Regions from separate parts of the Homo sapiens genome. Here region 2 is linked to region 1. Evidence: fine-mapped expression QTL. A gene starts in region 1. The other region holds a variant in brackets. All regions are shown on one strand. Distances are from middle to middle. Region 1 holds the start of C20orf204 (chromosome 20 open reading frame 204). Region 2 overlaps PRPF6 (pre-mRNA processing factor 6).

Evidence for each region.
Region 2: its variant is fine-mapped to the expression of C20orf204 in blood mononuclear cells (TOPMed, PIP 0.93).

The regions. Positions count from the first base shown.
Region 1 is chr20:64,030,399-64,041,613 of GRCh38, reverse strand. It overlaps C20orf204 (chromosome 20 open reading frame 204), which reads right to left and starts at 5,432. Exons shown (of 4, transcript NM_001387010.1): 1 at 5,288-5,432; 2 at 3,412-3,687; 3 at 3,166-3,318; 4 at 2,613-2,992. The coding sequence starts at 5,290. The coding sequence ends at 2,855. PRPF6 (pre-mRNA processing factor 6) reads right to left here. Exons shown (of 21, transcript NM_012469.4): 20 at 9,570-9,696; 21 at 8,514-8,773. The coding sequence ends at 8,621. RefSeq lists silencers at 2,360-2,639, 2,830-3,149, 3,250-3,319 and enhancers at 3,965-4,558, 4,990-5,089, 4,559-5,152, 6,040-6,269.
Region 2 is chr20:63,981,490-63,991,290 of GRCh38, reverse strand. It overlaps PRPF6 (pre-mRNA processing factor 6), which reads right to left. Exons shown (of 21, transcript NM_012469.4): 2 at 8,076-8,244; 3 at 6,266-6,384. Among named protein-coding and RNA genes, the nearest start is that of PRPF6, 5.3 kb to the right of the region's middle. The variant G/C (reference allele first, on the strand shown) is at 4,692.

The sequences.
Region 1 (11,215 bases):
TCCCAGTGCGGCACATGGAGGGGCCTGGCTCCTGGGCTGTGGGAAGTTGCACAACCCCAGCCAGCGCCCTGCAGGCTCCATCTGTTACCCTGGCACAGCCCCCACCTCCCTGGAGCAGCCAAGCCCTGAAAAGGCATGAGGGTGGGACGGGACAGTACTGTGTGCAGCCCCAACCCAGAAACAGTATTTTACGAAGAACCAGGCTCAGGCCACCTGCCCTGGGCCTCTGCAGGGAAGGCACCACCAGTCGGTCTAGAGACATACAGGGCCAGTCCATGGGATCTGCCCTCAGTGGTTCCGTGGCCAATGGCTCTGTCCCTATCAGCCGTGGGCCCAGTGAGTCTCTTTCCATCTCTGGGTTGGTTCTGGTCAGTTCCAGCTAACAAACATTTGTTGAGCAGCTCGTGTGCTGGCCTGGGCCAGGTGCTGGTGTATCATGCTGAGGGAGACATGCCTCTATCCTCATGGAGCTACAGAAGAGCTACGGTCCCAGTGCTGAGCCCAAAGAGGACCTGAGCCTCTCAGGTCTGAGCAGGCACCTGCGGCTTCTCTCCTAGTCTCTGTGGCTCTCGGTAGCTCTGGGCCGCTTCGTGTAGCTCCACACATGCCCCTAGACCTAGTCTGGTTGGGCTGTCCCCACCCTGGACAAGTGAACTTTGTCCCAGAAGCCCAAAGCCCACCTTGCTCCCATTCTGCATGAGGGAGAGGAGCCATGGGCCAGGATGCAGGACTTCTCACCCACCCACGTGGTCGTGGTCCAGGACTAGGCACCGACATGTGTCCCCAAAATCCTGAGGCCTCTGTTCCTCCTCCTGCCCCCAAGAGGCTGTGGTTTGTTTGAACCTTTCTCAGTCAGGGTAGAGGGAGCTGTTTCTGTTGCCCACCCACATCCCCAGCCTCTGACTGCTCTCAACAGCAGAACGGGAGCATTGCGGGTGGGCAGGAGCCAAGGGGCCGCCCAGGAGGTCATGCATGGACAGGAGAGGAGTGCCCTCCCCATGGCCCAGGGGTTGGGGCAGGTCCAAGTGCAAAAGTCAGCTGCCCCTGGGGCAATGTGACAGTGGGAGCCTTCATGGAGGGCCTGTCCCCATCCTGTCCCTGAGCCCAGCCCAGAACCCTGGACTCTCTCCAGGCCCCAACTCAGCTGCCTCCCAGCCATGCTCGGCTGTCCATACCTTATGCTCCATACACCAGCACGCCCAGCTGAGCCCAGCCACGTCCACAGTTCCCCAGCTCCCTCAGGGCCCTCAAACCGACCCACTCCCCCTTTAGTGCTTCCCATGTTCAGGCTCCCCACAGACCCACCCAGGTACTCCAGCCAGGACCCTGGGCAGCCTGGACCTCTCTCCACCCCTTTGTCCTCACCAACCCTCCACACAAGTCACGGGAACCTTTCTAGATTCCAACTCTAACATCCCTCTTTCACCAAAGACCTTCCGCTGCCTCGGGATAAGTCCAAGCACCCCCCTCAAGTGCTTTGGCTCCAGCTGGGGCTCCTGCACCCTGCATCTCCCCCTCATCCCTCCCACACTTGCCCCCACTGGCCCCCACGGAGCAGGCAATGCAGAACTAGGGCTGGGAATGCTTGCTAGGTGTTTGTGCTCAGAGCATGGCCAGGGACTCTGTCAGAAGTGCTAACTCTGCAGGGGAATCCAAGGCTCTGAAGTCCAGGAAGCTTGGCCCCCAGCCTCCAGGCAGGGGACATGTGGCAGATCCCATGCCCTGGGCCTGGGTCTGAGGCCAGCTCTTACATTGCTGGCTGTGATTTGGGGCAAGTCTCAGCCTCCTCGTGCTTCAGTTTCCCCATCTATAAAACAGAGACAGTAGCTCCCGTTGCACAGACTAAATACATTAACACAGAGTGTGGGGCTGGGTCAGGGTCAGCTTGGGAGGTTACTTCTTTCTTCTGCTGCTGCCCCTGATCCCACAGAATGCCAGAGGCACAGCCTGCTCGCGGCCTTTCCGGGAAGGGGAGGGTAACAGGTGTCAGGTACTTTACCTCCCCTGCTCCTCCATGGGCCGAGATTGGGGGAGGGGGGTGACAGACTCCCAGACCTGCGCATCAGATGGGGGAACCAGGGGACAGTCCCCCAGCAAATGGAGGGTTCCAGGGGCCAGAAAGCGGGCCCCAGCCTGGCCAGTCCTGCAGAGGGGGCTGGGCAGTCTCTGAGCCCAGGCCGTGGTCACCCCTCCGGAGGCAGCAGGAAATAGCCTGGCCAAGCTCACAGCCAAGGCCCGCAGCTCCCGCTTCCCTTCGGGCCCGTTTCCTTTATCCGGTTGTTTTGCTCCGAATTCACCAAGTCCAGCCTTCCCCTCCCCTCAATTTCCACCCCCGGCCCCGGTCCAAAGTGGAGCAGGACGGATACGTGACGTTTTAGGGGCCCCAGGAGTCCCCCGCTCTGCCCTCCGCCCAGCCGGGAGCCGCTGACAGAGCCGGAGCGCGCCCAGCGTCCCGCGTCCGCCCTCTGCTGCCCGAGGCTGGGAGCGGCGGCTCCGCCCCGTCCAGGTGCCACAGGAAGTGCGGGTCTCCGCATTCCCCCTCCACCGCCCCCCGCCACCGAGGCGCAGATCCCGGGGCGGTCCTAGGCCCACAGAGAGGCAGGCGAAGGGAGTGCCGGACCCGCAGCGCCAGCTCCGTTTATTGAGGCCTTCGGCGCGTGGAGGGCGGGCCTCCTCCGTGACCCAGCGGCGGCCAGGCGCGCTCCCTTCTCCAAGTCCTGGGCCCTCCGGGGAGCGCGGGCTGCGTCGAGCGAGGGGCCGAGGTCACCAACAAGTCTACAGAACGAGGCGCGTCTCCAGGCTCTGCCGCGGCCCCGCTGGTTCTCCTCCCCGCGCAGGGCCAGGACGGGCCGCGCTAGGAGTCCCTGGAGGCCGGGGCGCGCAGCGCGAAGAGCTTCTCCCAGCAGGTGGCGACGGCGTCCAGGGCGCGCAGCAGGAGCTGCCTTCGGCCGCCGCGACGCCGGGCAGGGCGCATCTTGGGCCGCCGGCTCCGCTGTCGGGGACAGGGCGGTCAGCGAATGCGCACGGCCCCCGCGCCCGGCCCGGCCCGGGAAGGGAGACGCGACCCAGCCCGACTTCAGCCTAGGGCCGTGGAGCCCCGGGACGCGCGGCGGCCCTGTGGGGGTTAAGGGAGGTCTGGCTCTGGGTGCACTCAGGGACGCACACCTGGCGCAGCGTCCTGCAGTGGCGCCGCATCACCGCCTCGGTGCGCACAGCCACGGTCCAAGCAGCTCTCTCCAGGGCCCCGCGGCGGCCCCCGGCCACCGCCCCGCGCAGGGTCCGACCCAGGGACGAGATGGACAGGAGGATACTGTGCTCCTGGGGAGGGAAGGGAGGAAGGCGGGGTGGGGGTGGGGGGAAACTGAGAGAGGAGCAGGCCGGCGAGCTTGGGTAGGGGCGCCTCCTCCATACCTTCTGGGCGCCACAGGAGGCCCGAGGCCGTCCCCGCCGTCCCGAGCTCCCGGGTCTAGTCAGGTTTTTCTGTATGAAATGAAAGTGTCTGGAGCCTGGCCTGGTCTTTTCGGCCCCCGCCCCGCCCCACTTCACGGCGGCCTGCAGATCCTCGAAGATGATGGCGCGATAGTGGCGGAGCACGTCGGGGACGCTGCAGGCCGGGGAATAGGCGCGGCTTGGCGCGGTCCCCAGCAGCGCCAGCAGGAGCGCCCAGAGTGCAGGCTTAGGGGGTACCTGGAGGAGACAGCAGGTTGGGGTTAGGCCTGGGGGGTGTTCCCAGCACAGGGAGCAGCCAGCCCACCTGCACTTTGTTTCCGTAGAAGCCCCACCCCCTGCCCCACCCCACGGGATCTCTGAGCGAATGAAATGGACGTGTCACCAATCAAGAAAGGCTGTAGGCACAGGCCTGGCGGGATAAATCAGGAGACACAAGAGATAGGTCTGCAAACCAGACAGTTCTATGCTCCCTGCAAAGATGTGAAAGGGGTGAGTGATGTCGGCTGGGAGGCGATGTCACTGAGTCCTGAAGAACCCATCAGGAGATAGAGGGGGCAGGCCCAGAGTCAGGAGAGCCTGGCTCTGTGGTCCACGTGGGAGTGGGGCCAGCAAGGGGTGGAGCACCCTCAGGACCGCACAGAGCAGGGCCCCCCACCAGCCCCGTACAGCTCTAGTGGGGCTGGTCTGCAGGCTCTTGGGGGTACAGTAGGAAGTTGTCCCAGTACAGCCTGTCTCACTCATGGCCATGCCCATTCAACTCCACACCTCCCATACTGGCGCCCTCTGGGTTAGCTCACAGAGACGTGGGAACTGGGGACTCCTTGTACCCCCAACCCAACTGGGGCAGGGGCTCAGAGCTCCAAGCCACACCCTATTGGAAGGGGAAAGCTAGGGGGACACCCAGAAGCTATAGAGGAGGAAGGAGCCACCACATCCAGCCCCAACCAACAGTCGCAAAAGGCCCCTCTGCCTGTACCAGCCGCCCCACGCCATCCCTCCGGGCAGCCTGTGCCACAGGCCTCCCCCGACCCAAAATGGAGGGCCTGCGCCCGCAGGGATAAAGCCCAAACATCAAGGAGACAGCTGACGGCCCCCAGGTTCCCAGCCACCCAAAAGGGGCCAGCCCCAACCCTTCCCCTGGGCCCCCAGGATGGAGTCAGACAGCAGATCTAGGGCTGGAAATTAATCATGCGAACCCAACCAAGATAAGAGGACTCGACTCGGCTTCCTAGCCCTGTCAGGGGAGCCTGAACAAGCAGCACCCCAACCCTTGCATAGAGCTGGGGGCCTGGTGGGCGGTGGCAGCTCCTGCTCAGAGCACAAAGCAGCAATGGCTGGAAGAGCAGATGGCTTGCTGTGGCCCCTTCCTGAAACCTGACCCCCCCAACCACACACGCCACAGCCAACTTGGTGGGCTCAGAATTGCCACGTCATTCCCTCTGCCTGCTCTGGGTCAGAGGTCATAGCGAGAACCAGAGCCTGACTCCTGAGCAGGCCAGCTGGAGCTGCAAGGATGTCCAGCACCTGCTGTGTCCCACCCAGGTGGGGCAGACTGGCTGCCCTGGGAGTCCCAACTGGCCTGTTAGTACCACTTCCAGGCTCAAGCCTCAGCCCAGCTTAGAACAGGGTTGCCCGGCACCCAGGAGCCCCCCTCCCCCAACTGCCAGAAGCCAGGGCACATGCACCCAGTGCCACCCACAGGGACGCAGTGACCAGAGCCAACCGGAGATTTCCTGGTGGGGCTCAGGGGAACAAGCAGTGTCTCCTGAGCTGTGTGTACCCCCAGCCCCTCCACCCAAGTAAGCCCCCTCCCTAGAGGAGGCCCACAGCTGCTCACCATGGGCCTTTCAGGGTCTTGCCCTCCCTCACTCCCGCCAGCAGGCCACGCACATGATCCTGGGGTCCTTGGGCAGGGTGTGCACTGCCGCACCAGGTCCAACACCAGCCAACCGCTTCCCTGGACAGGCTGCCTGGAGGACTGCAGAGGGGCAGGCCAGGCGGAGGCTTTTGAAGTTGGCTCCTCCAAGCTGAGGGAGGGAGCAGGAGAGGGAAGGAAAGGCCACGCAATCCCAGCCCTGCCCCCTCCCTCTCTCCACTCCCTATCACTTCAATTAACCTGGCCCTGGAGCTGGGCAGCCACCTCTCCCAGGGGATCCAGGGCTACTGTGGGTCTTGGATTAACTTGTCCGTCCCAGAGATACTGTTCTGTCAAGGAGGGGTGAGGCGCCGCGTGGGCTGGGGCAGTGCAGGGCCCAGCTGGTGGGGGAGGGGAGCCAGGTGAGACTGGGGCCGACTCTGTGGCCAGCAAGTGCTGCCTCTCCCAGGGATCTGGCTGATGGGCAGAGCTGGTGGGAGGCCCTCATCCCCTCCCCAGCTGCCGGACCTGCAGCCTGACATCCAGGGGGCCCTGCCCCAGCAGGTCCCAAGACATGGGGCTTCCCGGGCCCCCGCTGCTGGCCCGGCCTCACTCCTCCTGGGCTGAGGGGTCTCTGGCTGAAGAGGTAAGTCTGAGGCTGTTACTCTGCTGCCTGCCGTAAAGATACCCAGGAGCAGGGTGGGCTCCCCCGATCCTTGGCTGCTGTCGCTTCTGCTGTGGTCTGGGGCACTCTGGTTAGCAGCCTGACAGGCAGTGGTGAAGAGGCACCTCAGAACACGAGCAACCTCTGAGGCACAACTCATCTTTGCAGGCTGAAAAAATTTCAGTTGAAGACAAGTTAAGGTAGTTTCCCAGGGGGAAAAGTCAGTGACTCACAATAGTCAAGAACAGACCACACAGGTGACAGGAGTCCCCTAGGATTGTAACACTGCATCTTTACGTTTTTGCCTTTTCCGTGTTTGGATGTGATTAAATGCTGTGACAGGCTGTGCAGGTCTGCAGCCCAGGAGCCCCAGGCTCTGGCACCCGGGCACACAGCCTGGGGGTGCAGGAGGCCGTGCCTGCCAGCCTTGTGTAAATGCACTCTTTAATGTTTGCAAGACGACATCACCTAACGAGGTTTTTCTCAGAATGTATCCGCACTGTTAAGTGGCGCACAACTGTGGTTTGGCCAACTCAAAGCATTTGAGAAAACCCCACACAGGCAAGAAAGAGGAGACACTCACACATGGACAATGTAAGCGCTCCGGAACTTTCCAAGGGCCCTGCAGGAAGTATCCCCTGAACATGGCCTGAAACATTCTTTTCTGTGTGACCCCTCAATGCCCACCCAGCACTGGCCATTTCAGCTCTGAGGTCAGAGAAGGGCTTCCTTCCTACGCCTCGGTTTCCACATCTGTACAGGGCCAGGCTGGCTCACAAACTTCCTGGGCCTCGGTTTCCACATCTGTACAGGGCCGGGCTGGCTCACAAACTTCCTGGGCCTCGGTTTCCACACCTGTACAGGGCCGGGCTGGCTCACAAACTTCCTGGGCCTCGGTTTCCACATCTGTACAGGGCCGGGCTGACTTCACAAACTCCAAAAAGCTGCAGGACTCTCTTCATCTTCAGAATAAATGTTGAGGGCTCCCTCATGCTTCCGTCTCTCCATGAGGGATCAAAGGAAACTCCTCCACAAGTTCCAGTGAAAACACTCATGAAGCTCCTGCAGCTGCTCCTCAGGACGGGGCGAGAGGAAGGACTTCCACATTCCAACGATTTGAGCTGGACCCCAGGTTGCCTGCCCAGCAGAGACCAACCAGCAGTTCCTGACCCCATACAGGGGTGGCAGGTCCCTTGCCCGGGATTGACCATGTCCTCAAGGTCCCCAGAACCACAGGGAAGGGGGACCCACACCCACATTCTGGTCTACCAGGACCGCCCCACGTGCAGGCAGGGATCTCCCACCCCAGCCATTCTCACTCGTCAGGAGCAGGGCAGGCAGACCACAAGGCCTAGCACAGGCCCCCATGTGCAGGTGGGCAGAGCTGTGGGTCAGTGACTGACCACCACCACAGGCCCTGCCATCGGTACCACAAGACAGGCCGGGACCCTCCAGGGCTCCCCTCTCACAAGGAACATCCAGGGACAGCTGCTCTCCAGCAGCCTCCTCAGCCCACATGACAGCGCCCTCCTCCCCGCCCGCTGGCCTCAACGACTGTCCACCCACACCCTCTGGGCCAGCCATGACCTCCAGCCAGATGTCTCTAGCCCCGGCCTACACAAGAACCAGCTGGCTCCCAACTGAATGCACACACATGATCCCAGGCCTGAGGACGTCCTTTATCCTTACACAGCTAAGGCTGAAGAGAAGCCAAGTCTCTCGGGTGATCAACGTTCAACCTAGAGATGAGAACCATCACTGTTCAACCTGGAGATGAGAACCATTACAAGGGCTTTAGGGTTAAACTGCGAATGATAAATTAGCAAAGATAAACTCACGGCCGGGTGCGGTGGCTCACGCCTGTAATCCCAGCACTTTGGGAAGCTGAGGCAGATGGATCACCTGAGGTCAGGAGTTTGGCAGCGGGCGCCTGTAGTCCCAGCTACTCGGGAGGCTGAGACAGGAGAATTGCTTGAACCCAGGAGGCAGAGGTTGCAGTGAGCCGAGATCGTGCCACTGCACTCCAGCCTGGGCGACAGAGCGAGACTGTCTCAAAAATAAAAAAATGAACTCACCTCCAAAAGAAAGAACGCCTCTTACTGGTGACACTGTCACTCAGCACATGCCTGAGGGGCCCGGGAGGCTGTGTGGAGAGGCCCTGCGCAGAGCTGGGTTCTCCTGTTTGCACTCAGACCCCAGGGAGGCCCCAGCTGTCCCCTGACCAAGACCCTTGCAGGCGGCTGCCAGGCTCCTGCGAGCACCTGCGTCCTGCATGCAGCTTGGTCCCCACTGTCTCCAGCTGTCCTCACAGGGCTTTTGGCCAGAACATCTGCACCCCTACCACCTTCTCCACAGTCTTGGGGAACCCGGGCACCTCCACAGTGCCTCCTCTGTGAGACACCGGCTGTCTGCAAGAGGCTTCTGTCCAAGCAAGGGCGATCACAGCCACCCCAGGACGGCATGGGACAGGCCAGGACAGGCCAGACTGGGGCAGCAGAAGCAGGAGCCAGAGAAGGGCCCCAGAGAAAACCAGCAGGCTGCCTGTTCTGACACGAGACATAAAAACTTTTAATGAAGGAGGACACAGCTCAGAGCCCTTCCACATGCGGCCCAACCCTGCCCCACGGAGACCGGCCATGGCAACCGCTCAATCAGAAGGTGTTCTTGATGCGGCCGGCCACCAGCCTAAGGATGTCCCCGATCTTCTTCTGCCAGTTGGCGATGTCCTTGGACACGGCGCACCACAGCTCCCCATGCCGAGGCTCTGCACTCTCACAGCGCTTCCTCACCTCCTCCTGCTGCTCCTGGGGGGACCACAGGGCACGTCAGGCAGGGGTCCTCCCACGCTACTCCCCGGACCTCGCCTGCTTCTCGCCTGGCCCCTGCAGACCTGGCCCTGGCAGCACCAACCCCAACTGGCGGGCCAGAGGGCACAGGCCCTGCACCGGAAGGCAAGGCTCTTTCAGGTGTGTTCCTCAAAGGAGCCCCACCTCCTGAGGAGCATGGACCCCACCAGCCTCAGCCCACAGATGAGGAACTGAGCCAGGCTCCCCATGTCTGTGCCTCACACAAGTGCTCACGTCTGCCTTCTCCAAACAAGGAGTTAGGGTTCACGTGGGCTGGCAACACTTTCCAGGGAGGACCAGGACAGCCTGACTGCCTCCAGCACAGCTCAGACAACGCTTGGCTCTAGCGGGGCGGGTGGGAGCAGAGGGGCTGCTGCCCAGGCTGTCCTAGAAAGCCACACTCAGGCTCAGGCCCAAGAAAAAGGCCAACTCCATTCCCATTCCTAAAGTGAGCCCAGGCTCCAGCCAGCAAATAACTCGTTAAAATACTCCAGCAGACAGGCCACCCTAACGGACAGGGTGCCTCAATTCCAGGGTGTGGAGCTGTGAGGCTATAACCAGAAAACGGATGTGGAGGCAGAGACTGCCTTGTGGGGAGGTGTCGAGGATTCTGTGCCCCACACACCCGGTCCATCCTCCCGACCCCGGGCAGAGTCACGCTGGCCGTGGCCACCTCCTAGAGCCCCCAGGGCTGGCGGAACTCCCCGCCACAGTCCCAGAAGGCACTGAGCGGCGGTCTGTCGAGGGGCCTCACCTCAGTGCCATGCTGCAGCTCAAACTTGTAGAAGAAGGCCCAGGCATCCCCCAGGTCCGAGTCAATCTTCACAGTGCGGTGGAACCACTCCCTGGCCTTGGTGATCTTCCGCTGACTCCAAAACAGCCTGTTCCAGCAGAAGGACGTGAACCCAGAGTGAGTGGCTGCAGGACGGTATTCTGGGGCAGGGGAACGGCTTCAGGGCCATCAGCTTCATCCCTGACCCGCAGCCCTGGTGCTCCCCTCAAGAAGGCCTGAGGATCAGGGCCTCGGCTGATCCAGAAATAATTACCCCAGATCATTAACTTGAAGCTGCCCTTCACGGGTCTAACCAAATTGGTTTTTTTTTGTTGTTTTTTTTTTTTTTTTTTTGAGAAGGAGTCTCGCTCTGTCGCCCAGGCTGGAGTGCAGTGGCGCGATCTCGACTCACTGCAAGCTCTGCCTCCCAGGTTCAAGCGATTCTCCTGCCTCAGCCTCCTGAGTAGCTGGGATTACAGGCATGCGCCACCACACCCGGCTAATTTTTGTATTTTTAGTAGAGATGGGGTTTCACTGTGTTGGTCAGGGTGGTCTCAAACTCCTGACCTCATGATCCACCTGCCTCAGCCTCCCAGTGCTGGGATTATAGGCATGAGCCACCGCACCTGTCCCAAACTGTTTCTTAAAAAATTCACACGCAGGGAAAGATCTTCCAACTCCGTAAAATTAGGGTCAGATACAAGGAGATGAAACTAAACCTGACACAAAATTAAACTGCAACTTTGATGAGGGAAAGTTATACAGTTTCAGCTCCTCACTGAGACACCTGCTGGATCATCCTGCCCCACCCGGCCTCCAGCAGCAACCCCAGTGAACACTGAGAAGATGGGCTCCAGGCAGCACAAGGGCCTGGGCCTGCAGCCCACAGCCCTCAGGCCACTGGATTCACACCGCCGTGCCTGCCAGACACATGCACACCTGAAAAACCGGGCCCGAAGAGGTCCATGCTATGAGAGGCCAGGTAAGGGTGTGCATGGCACCCCCACCCGCTGCTGGAGAAGGGATGGCGGGCGCTGGCTGCTGAGCATGCTGGCAGGCCCGGGACTCTGCGTTGCTGCCACCCTCTCCTCAGGGTCACCTCCCCCTGGAGCCAGAGGCACCGTAGTCAAGAGACAACACGAGGAGCCTCCACTCCGGGCAGCTGTTCGGGTTCGTCTCAGTTGCCAAACGGAATAATTTCACACTCTGATAACCTGATTGTTTTTTAAGCCTTGTGGTATTCTTAATTGCCCGGTGTTAGATAAACTGTGATTTAAAGAGCACAAACCCAGATAGCAGACACACAAAACACTGGCTTGGGAATAGCAAGGAGTGACTTATTTACTTTAGCAAAGCCTTTTATAAGGTTTTATGGCTGCACTATCAGAGTGTCACCCAGAAGTCACTCTGGGAGGTGAACGCACAGGGCAGGACCAAGGTAGCACCAGGCAGACACAAGCCTCCCTGTGGGGAGCCTCTCTCATCTGTCGGGGGCCTGCGGGCAGGGGAGAGGAGGTGCCCCTACAGGCAAGCCTGTGGGGGCGGCACCCAGACCTCTGGAGACCAAGCACCACTGCCACCCAGTGCTGGGGAGAAGGGATGGAGAGAATCAAAAGCCAGCACTAGGA
Region 2 (9,801 bases), 50 kb after region 1:
GTGCAACTGGCTAATTTTAATTTTGTTTTTGTAGAGACAGGGTTTCACCATGTTGCCCAGGCTGGTCTCGAACTCCTAGACTCAAGTGGTCCTCCTGCCTTGGCCTCCCAAGGTACTAGGATTACACATGTAAGCCACTGCACCCAGCCTGATGTTTTTTAAAATGCATTAACCCTGGAGGTTCCAATCAATTTTTAAAATGTAGGGCTGAGTGTAGTAACTCATGCCTGTAATCCTAGCACTTTGGGAGGCCAAGGTTAGGGGAGGCAGGTGGATCACTTGAGGCCAGGAGTTCAAGACCAGCCTGGGCAACATAGACAAAAATTAGCTGGGTGTGAGCCTGGCGTGGTGGCTCAAGCCTGTAATCCCAGCACCTTGGGAGGCCAAGGCAGGCAGATCACAAGGGCAGGAGTTCAAGACCAGCCTGGCTAACATTGGTGAAACCCCGTCTCTACTAAAAATACCCATCTCTACAAAAATCAGCCGGGCGTGGCGGTGCATGCCTGTAATCCCAGCCACTTGGGAGGCTGAGGCAGGAGAATCACTTGAACCCTGGAGGCGGAGGTTGCAGTAAGCCGAGGTTGCGCCATTGCACTCCAGCCTGGGCAATAGAGTGAGACTCCATCTCAAAAAAAAAAAAAGAAAAAAGAAAAATTAGCTGGGTGTGGTAGCACGTGCTTGTAATCCCAGCTACCTGGGAGGCTGAAGCAGGAGAATCGCTTGAGCCAGGAATTGAAGGTTACAGGGAGCTATAATCAAGCCACCGCGCTCCACCCTGGGTGACAGAGTAAGATCCTGTATCCAAAAAAAAAAAAAAGTGAAATGCAATGCCATTCACGTTTAATTACTATAGGTATAAAATTTATGCACAATGATTTAATAACGAGCTTCTAAAAAGATGTCCAGGCCAGGCACATTGACTTATGTCTGTAATCCCAGCACTCTGGGAGGCCAAAGGATATGGTTTACATCTGTGTCCCCATGAAATCTCATGCTGAATTATAATTCCCAATGTTTGAGGTGGGGCCTGGTGGGAGGCCACTTGAGTCTTGAGGGCAGACCCCTGATGGCCTGGTGCTGTCCTCGAGGCAGCAAGTTTACATCACGTAAGATCTGGTTGTTTAAAGTGTGTGGCAAGACTGGGCACGGTGGCTCATACCTGTAATTCCAACACTTTGGGAGGCTGAGGCGGGTGGATCACTTGGGGTCAGGAGTTCAAGACCGGCCTGGCCAACATGGTAAAACCCTGTCTCTACTAAAAACACAAAAATTAGCCAGGTGTGGTGGCGCGTGCCTATAATCCCGGCTACTTGGGAGGCTGAGGCAGAAGAATCACTTGAGCCTGGGAGACTCAAAAAAATAAAAAATAAATAAAATTCCAGAAGAACTATATTTTACTATTCTAAAATTATCTTCAAAAAATAAAACATTCTACATACATCACAGGAAGTTATGATTACATGTATAAAAAGCAACAGAGCTGGGCGCAGTGGCTCACGTCTGTAATCCCAGCACTTTGGGAGGCCGAGGTGGATGGAGCACAAGGCCAGGAGTTTGAGACCATCCTGGCCAACATGGTGAAACCCCGTCTCTACTAAAATACAAAAACTAGCCAGGCGTGGTGGCAGGCACCTGTAATCCCAGCTACTTGGGAGGCTGAGGCAGGAGAATTGCTTGAACCCGGGAGGCAGAGGTTGCAGTGAGCCAAGATAAAAAAAAGCAACAGAAAGAGGAAATGAGCCAAAATGTTAACTGTTACTTTCTAGACTTATGAATAAATGTTATGCTTTTACCCATACTTACTCTTATTTTCCTAATATTCTATAATGAGAACTTTTTATTTTTTTCCTTTTTGAGACAGTCTCTGTGGCCCAGGCTGGAGTGCAGTAGCGCACTCTTGGCTCACGGGAGCGAGCCACCACACCTGGCTTCCGTTCGTTGCCTGTGCTTGTGGGGTATTACTCAAGAAATCTTTGCCTAGTCCAATGTCCTGTAGAGTTTCTCCAATGTTTTCTTCTAGTAGTTTCAGCTTGAGGTCTTAAAGTCTTTTAATTTGATTTTTGTATGTGGTGACAGAGAGGGGTCTAGTTTCATTCTTCTGTATATAGATATCCAGTTTTCCCAGCACCGTTTATTGAAGAGATTGTCTTTTCCCCAATAAATATTCCTGGTACATTTGTCAAGAATGAGTTCACTGTAGAGGTACCTATTTGTTTCTGGGTCCATTCTGTTCCATTGGTCTATGTGTCTGTTTTTCTGCCAGTACTATGCTGTTTTTGTTACTACAGCTCTGTAGTATAATTTGAAGTCAAGTGTTCCCCCAGTTTTGTTCCTTTTGCTCAGGATAGCTTTGCCTATTCTGGGTCTTTTTTGGCTCCATGTACATTTTAGAATTATTTTTTCTTTTTCTTTTTTTTTTTTTGAGACGGAGTCTCACTCTGTTGCCCAGGCCGGAGTGCAATGGCACGATCTCAGCTGACTGCAACCTCTGCCTTCCAGGTTCAAGTGATTCTCCTGCCTCAGCCTCCCAAGTAGCTGGGATTACAGGCACCTGTCACCATGCCCAACTAATTTTTGTATTTTTAGTAGAGATGGGGTTTAGCCAGGCTGGTCTCGAACTGCTGACCTCAAGTGATCCACCTGCCTCAGCCTCCCAAAGTGTTGGGATTACAGGCATGAGCCACTGCACCTGGCTATTTTTTCACTATCTGTTAATAATGTCCCCAGTATTTTGATACGGATTGCATTGAATCTGTAAATTACTTTGGGTAGTATGGATATTTTCTTTTATTTTAAGATGGAGTCTCACTCTGTTACCCAGGCTGGAGTGCAGTGGTGCAATCTCAGCTCACTGCAACCTCGACCTCCTGGGTTCAAGCGATTCTCCTGCCTCAGCCTCCCAACTAGCTGGGACTACAGGCGTGCACCCCCACACCCGGCTAATTTTTGTTTTTTGGTTTTTTTTTTTTTTGAGACAGAGTCTTGCCCCGTCACTCAGGCTGGAGTGCAGTGGTGCAATCTCAGCTCACTACAACATTTGCCTCCTAGGTTCAAGCAATTCTCTTGCCTCAGCCTCCTGAGTAGCTGGGATTACAGACGTGTGCCACTACACCCAGCTAATTTTTGTATTTTTAGTAGAGACAGGGTTTCACTATGTTGGTCAGCCTGGTCTCAAACTCCTGACCTCAAGTGATCCACCCACCTCACTCTCCCAAGGTGCTGGGATTACAGGCGTGAGTCCCAGCGCCTGGCAACTTTTGTAATTTTTTTAGTAGAGACAGGGTTTCACCACGTTGGTCAGGCTGGTCTCGAACTCCTGACCTCCAGTCATCCACCTGCCTCGGCCTCCCAAAGTGCTGGGATTACAGGCGTGAGCCACCGTGCCCGGCCATTTTTGTATTCTTAATAGTGACAGGGTTTCTCTTTGTTGGCCAGGCTGGTCTCAAACTCCTGACCTCAGGTGATCCACCCACCCTCAGCCTCCCAAAGTGCTGGGATTACAGGTGTGAGCCACCACACCTGGGGGCATAGCCTGCAACTTTAATCAATTTGTCAGTTCCAATAGTGTTTTGGTAGAGTCTTTAGGGTTTTCTAAATATAAGATCATATCATCTGCAAACAAGGATAATTTAACTTCTTCTTTTCCAATCTGGATGCCCTTTTATTTATTTCTCTGGTCCGACTGCTCTAGCTAGGACTTCCAGTACAATGTTGAATCACAGTGGTGAAAGTGGGCATCCTTGTTGCGTTCCAGTTTTTCCCCATTCAGTATGATACGAGCTGTGGGCCTACCATATGTGGCTTTTTTTTTTCTTTGCGACACAGTCTCATTGTGTTGCCCAGGCTGGAGTGCAGTGGCACAATCTCAGCTCACTGTAACCTCCACCTCCTGAGTAGCTGAAATTATAGGCCTGAGCCACCACACCCAACTAATCTTTGGATTTTTAGTAGAGACAGGGTTTTACCATGTTGGTCAGGATGGTCTCAAACTCCTGACCTCAAATGATCTGCCTGCCTGGGCCTCCCAAAGGGCTGTGATTACAGGCGTGAACCACCCCATCCAGCTGTATATAGCTTTTATTGTGTTATGCTCCCCCCCCCTTTTTTTTTTTTTTTTTTTTGAGACAGGGTCTCGCTCTGTGGCCCAGGCTGAAGTGTGGTGGTATGATCTCAGCTCACTGCAACCTCTGCCTCCTGGGCTCAAGTAATTCTCCCATCTCAGCCTCCTGAGTAGCTAGGACTACAGGTGTGTGCCACGAAGCCTGGCTAATTTTTGTATTTTTTTGTAAAGAAAAGGTATTACCCTCTTGCCTAGGCTGGTCTCAAACTCCTGAGATCAAGCAGTCCTCCCGCCTCAGCCTCCCAAAGTGCTGGGATTACAGACGTGAGCCACCACACCCAGCCTGAGGTATGTTTCTTCTATATGCAGTTTTTTGAGAGTTTTTATCATCAAGGAATGTTGAATCTTATCAAATGCATTTTCAGAATCAATTAAAATGATTAGGCCGGGCGCAGTGGCTCACGCCTGTAATCCCAGCACTTTGGGAGGCCGAGGCAGGTGGATCATGAGGTCAGGAGATCAAGACCATCCTGGCTAACACAGTGAAATCCCGTCTCTACTAAAAATACAAAAAATTAGCCAGGCGTGGTGGCGGGCAACTGTAGTCCCAGCTACTCAGGAGGCTGAGGCA[G/C]GAGAATCACTTGAACCCAGGAGGTGGAGGTTGCAGTGAGCTGAGATTGCGCCACTGCACTCCAGCCTGGGCAACAGAGCGAGACTCCGTCTCAAAAAAAAAAAAAAAAAGATCATATGGTTTTTGTCCTTCATTCTGTTGATATGATGTATAACACTGATTAATTTGCATATGTTGAACCACCCTTGCACTTGTATCCCCTGGGCAAAATGCCACTTGGTCATGATGAACGATCTTTTTTTTTTTTTTTTTTTGAGATGGAGTCTTGCTCTTGTCTCCCAGGCTAGAGTGCAGTGTTGTGACCTCGGCTCACTGCAACCTCCACCTCCCGAGTTCAAGCGATTCTCTTGCCTCAGCCTCCCAAGTAGCTGGGATTATAGGCGTACACCACCCACCATGCCCGGCTAATTTTTGTATTTTTAGTAGAGACTGGGTTTCACTAGGTTGGCCAGACTGGTCTTGAACTCCTGACCTCAGATGACCCATCATCCGCCCACCTCGGCCTCCCAAAGTGCTAGAATTACAGGCGTGATCCACTGCGCCCAGCCGATGAACCATCTTTCTAATGTGTTGTTGAATATGGTTTGCTAGTATTCTGCTGATTTCTGCATCAGTGTTCATCAGGGATACTGACCTAACATTTTCTTTTTTCAGTGTGTCTTTGTCTGGTTTTGGTATCAGGGTAATACTGGTTCTGTAGAATAAGTTTGGAAGTATTCCCTCCTCTATTTTTCAGAATAGTCTGAGTAGAATTGGTATTAGTTCTTCTTCAAATATTTGGTAAAATTCAGCAATGAAGCAATCAGATCCTGAGATGTTCTCTGCTAGGACACTTTCTGTTACAGCTTTGATCTCATTACCTTTTATTGGTCTGTTCAGGTTTGGGATTTCTTCATGGTTCAATCTTGGTAGCTTGTATGTGTCATTTAACATCTTTAATTCATTTGCAAATTACTCAACATATAATAATCAAGTCAGTAGGCCCTTTTCATTTCAAAGATGGTAACCCTGATGTATCGTAAAAGTAATCCACAAAATTCTGCTGATTTCTGGAAAAACTTAAGAGTTCTTAAGCTCTCCACTGCAGCCCCCAGGCCCTAAGGCTGTTCTGTAACAGCCCAGTGCTTATCCAGGCATGGCTACGACAGACCAAGACCCTCAGGTGGCCTAAAAGCTAAGCAGACACACATACTCTATTGCAACTTTTCTCCAAATATAAAACAATTCAAAACAAAACTTTTTTTTTTTTTTGAGACAGGGTCTCACTATGCCAACCAGGCTGGAATGATCATGGCTCACTGCAGTTTCTACCTCCTGGGCTTAAACGGTCCTTCCACCTCAGCCACCCAAGTAGCTGGGACTACAGGTGTGTACCATCTGGCTAATTTTTAAATTATTTGTAGAGATTAAGTCTCCCTACGTTGCCCACACTGGTCTCAAACCCCTGGGCTCTAGCTATCGTCCTACCTCAGCCTCTCAAAGTGCTAGGATTACACACGTGAGCCACTGCGCCTGGCCACAAAACTTTTTTTTAAACTTGGATAAATATTGTGAAAGGCAACAATTTCTTTTACCGTCTTTCTTTTCTTCTTTCATCCATCCTTTTATCCAGGGCTGCATAGATAGCATCTGCTTCCTCATCATCTTTCTCGTAGGGTCCACTTGAGAAGAGGCTCCCAGCATAGCCATTAAACTGAGAAGCAAACAACACGTGTAGAGGTCAGCTTTTCCTTCAACACCATCCCCACCAGCGAAACGGAGATCTCTACTTGTGAAATACTTGCTAAATTATTTTCTTCAGCCAACGAAGCCAAATCAAGGGACAGTCTACCATATAACTGGTGACTACTCTTCAAGCGTCAAGGGCATGGAAGACAGAGGAGACCCCCAATTGGAAGGGACCAAGGAGACATGACGAAATGCAATGGGGGATCCTGGACTAAGCCTAAGCCAGAAAGCGGACATTCATGGAAAAACATGAAATGCAAATACGACTGACAAATTAGTTAATAGTACTGTGTCAATGTTAACTCCTTCGTTTCAATAACTGCACTAAGGTCATGTAACATCGGGAGAAGCTTGGTGAAAGACATGCAGAAACTTTTTTTTGGGGGGGCACTATTTTTGCAAATTCCTGCAAATTTAAAATTATTTCAAAACTAATTTTTTTTTTTTTTCTGAGACAGAGTCTCGCACTCTCGCCAAGGCTGGAGTGCAGTGGCGCAATCTTGGCTCACCGCAACCTCCGCCTCCCGGGTTCACAGCATTCTTCTGCCTCAGCCTCCCGAGTAGCTGGGACTACAGGCACATGCCACCATGCCCGGCTAATTTTTGTGTAGTTTTAGTAGAGACGGGGTTTCACCATGTTAAACAGGATGGTCTCGATATCCTGGCCTCATGATCCGCCCACCTCGGCCTCCAAAAGTGCCAGGATTATAGGTGTGAGCTACCGCACCTGGCCTCAAAACTAAAATTATTTTTAAAAATTTTCCTCAGAGGAAAAATGTCATCTGTTAGAAGACAGTTAATCGGTATTCAGTCAGCTGAAGTTTTTCTTTAGATGTCTGTTTAGAGGGCAATCACTAAAGCTAAAAAAAGCAAATACTATCACCAATTCCACTTTAAGTTTTTATCATTAAAGACTGGCAGCCAGGCGCAGTGGCTCACGCCTGTAATCCCAACACTTTGGGAAGCCGAAGCGTGCGGACAACCTGAAGTCAGGAGTTCGAGACCAGCCTGACCAACATGGAGAAACCCTGTCTCTACTAAAAATACAAAATTAGCCAGGCATGGTGGCGCATGCCTGTAATCCCAGTTACTTGGAGACTGAGGCAGGAGAATCGCTTGAAATGGGGAGGCAGAGGTCACAGTGAGCTGAGATCACACCACTGCACTCCAGCCTGGCCAACAAGAGCGAAAGTCCGTCTCAAAAAAAAAAAAAAAAAAAGACTGGCCAATAGGAAATGCCAAGGCAGTGGTCCTAACACCTGCAAGAACATCTCTTCCGACAAGAGCGAAATTCCATCTCAAAAAAAAAAGACTGGCCAATAGGAAATGCCAAGGCAGTGGTCCTAACACCTGCAAGAACATCTCTTCCGACAAGAGCGAAATTCCGTCTCAAAAAAAAAAAAGACTGGGCAATAGAAAATGCCAAGGCAGTGGTCCTAACACCTGCAAGAACATCTCTTCTGAGGGACAAAAAGTGCACATTTCTCCGTGTTTTTCCTGCTCCCTCTCACTCTCAGTAAAGATGTTCCATGAATAGCTAAAATTTAAATGCATGAGCCACTCCAAGCCATTCATTACAGACACCAACACACACTGGTTAGGTCAGCTGCTCCCAGAGACTGGCTGGAGGAGCCACGAAAGCCGGACACATCTCACCTCATCGTAATTGGTGTCATTTAGATCCTCGTCGTCATCGTCAGCAGCCTGATTTTTCTTCATCTGGTCCCCAACGGTTCTCTTGCCTGGGGGTGCATGGCGATCATCCACAGGGTCATTTGCATCACGGGCGGGCCCAATGTCTGACCGCGTGGTGAAGCCAGTGGCGCTGCAGGAGACCCCCAAGACACCGGGTGTCTGAATAACTCTGTTCCTGTGCTCTTCTCCACTCCTGGTTATCACTTACTAACACCTCTTTTTCTAACACCTTTGGGAAACCTCCAAAGATCCTGGTGACAATGAACTGCAGTCTCAAACACTTCTGATCTTCTCTGCTTACCTGAAAGTTTCAGCCTACCCTGATGATGTTACCAAGGCAATCTCTCTCCACCCTAAGGCTTCGATCATCTCCCCCTCCACATCCAACCAGGCCCTTAAACCCAACTTGGCCCACACTGAGCTCTTCCGTGCCCACCTTACAGCTGCTCTGGGGGGTTTCAGCTGATAACAGCTGTCCCAGATGCCACGGGACCATGATGTAATTTTTGCCTCCCTCTCCCACTTTCCCCATCCTGTCTGTCCCCAAGTACTAATGAATCCACTTTCAAAATCCCTCCTTCCCAGACTATGACTCCCATCACAGCTGGAAACCAAGTTACCTCTCCCTGCCTTTAGCCTTCCTCTACTTCAACCCATGCTCTGCCAGATGATTCTTCCCAAAACACAGCTCTGAGTAAAAAATTCTGGGCCGGGCGTGGTGGCTCACGCCTGTAATCCCAGCACTTTGGGAGACGGAGGCGGGTGGATCATGAGGTCAGGAGTTCAAGACCCCCCTGGCCAACATGGTGAAACCCTGTCTCTACTAAAAATACAAAAATTAGCCGGGCGTGGTAGCGGGCACCTATAATCCCAGCTACTCAGGAGGCTGAGGCAGAGAACTGCTTGAACCCGGGGGGCAGAGATTGCAGGGAGCTGAGATCGCACCATTGCACTCCAGCTTGGGCGACAGAACAAGACTTTGTCTCAAAAAATAATAATAATAATAATAATTCTGAAGGGTCATGATCTTTCTAACGTCTCCAGGAGCTCTAGCCTGACGCTCAAGGCCCCTCCAACCTCCTGAGCTCTATTCTATTCGCTGTACATTCCACTCACACTGGACTCCCTCCTGTTCCCTGGGCTTCCTCCTTGCCTCACTTTTTTTGAACTCCCACACGCAGAATGTCAGTTTCTCTTCTATCGTCACCGTTTCTACAGCCCTAAGTCCAGCTCTCTTACTAAACTTGGCTCCAATGCTACTCTCCATTAAGCACTGGGTTCTAAATCTGGTCCTCTTTACGTACTTATTTATGGTAATAGCAAACCCTCCTTAGTGAGCTTGTGTGTGCCCCACAGATTCCAATATAATACCACCACCAAGAAAAACCCAGTAGTGTTCCTCATCAAATGAATAGCCAAATAGGATAATAACGACTGCTCACTTATCCAGCAACGCACGGTGGTCATCTGTGTTGCAGGCATAGAGGACCCAGGCACGCTTAAGGCGGGGCGGGCGGGCGGGCGGGGGGGGGGAGTGTCAGCCCGACCTGAGGAAGGTGGTCGCGTGTTTCCACTACACGTCAGATTCCTCTACTCCTCACTGCAGACCGTATACAGCATTACCCATCTTACAGACCAAAACACTGGGCTGAGAGTCAATGTGTCACATCTAGGCGGCAAGCAGGGT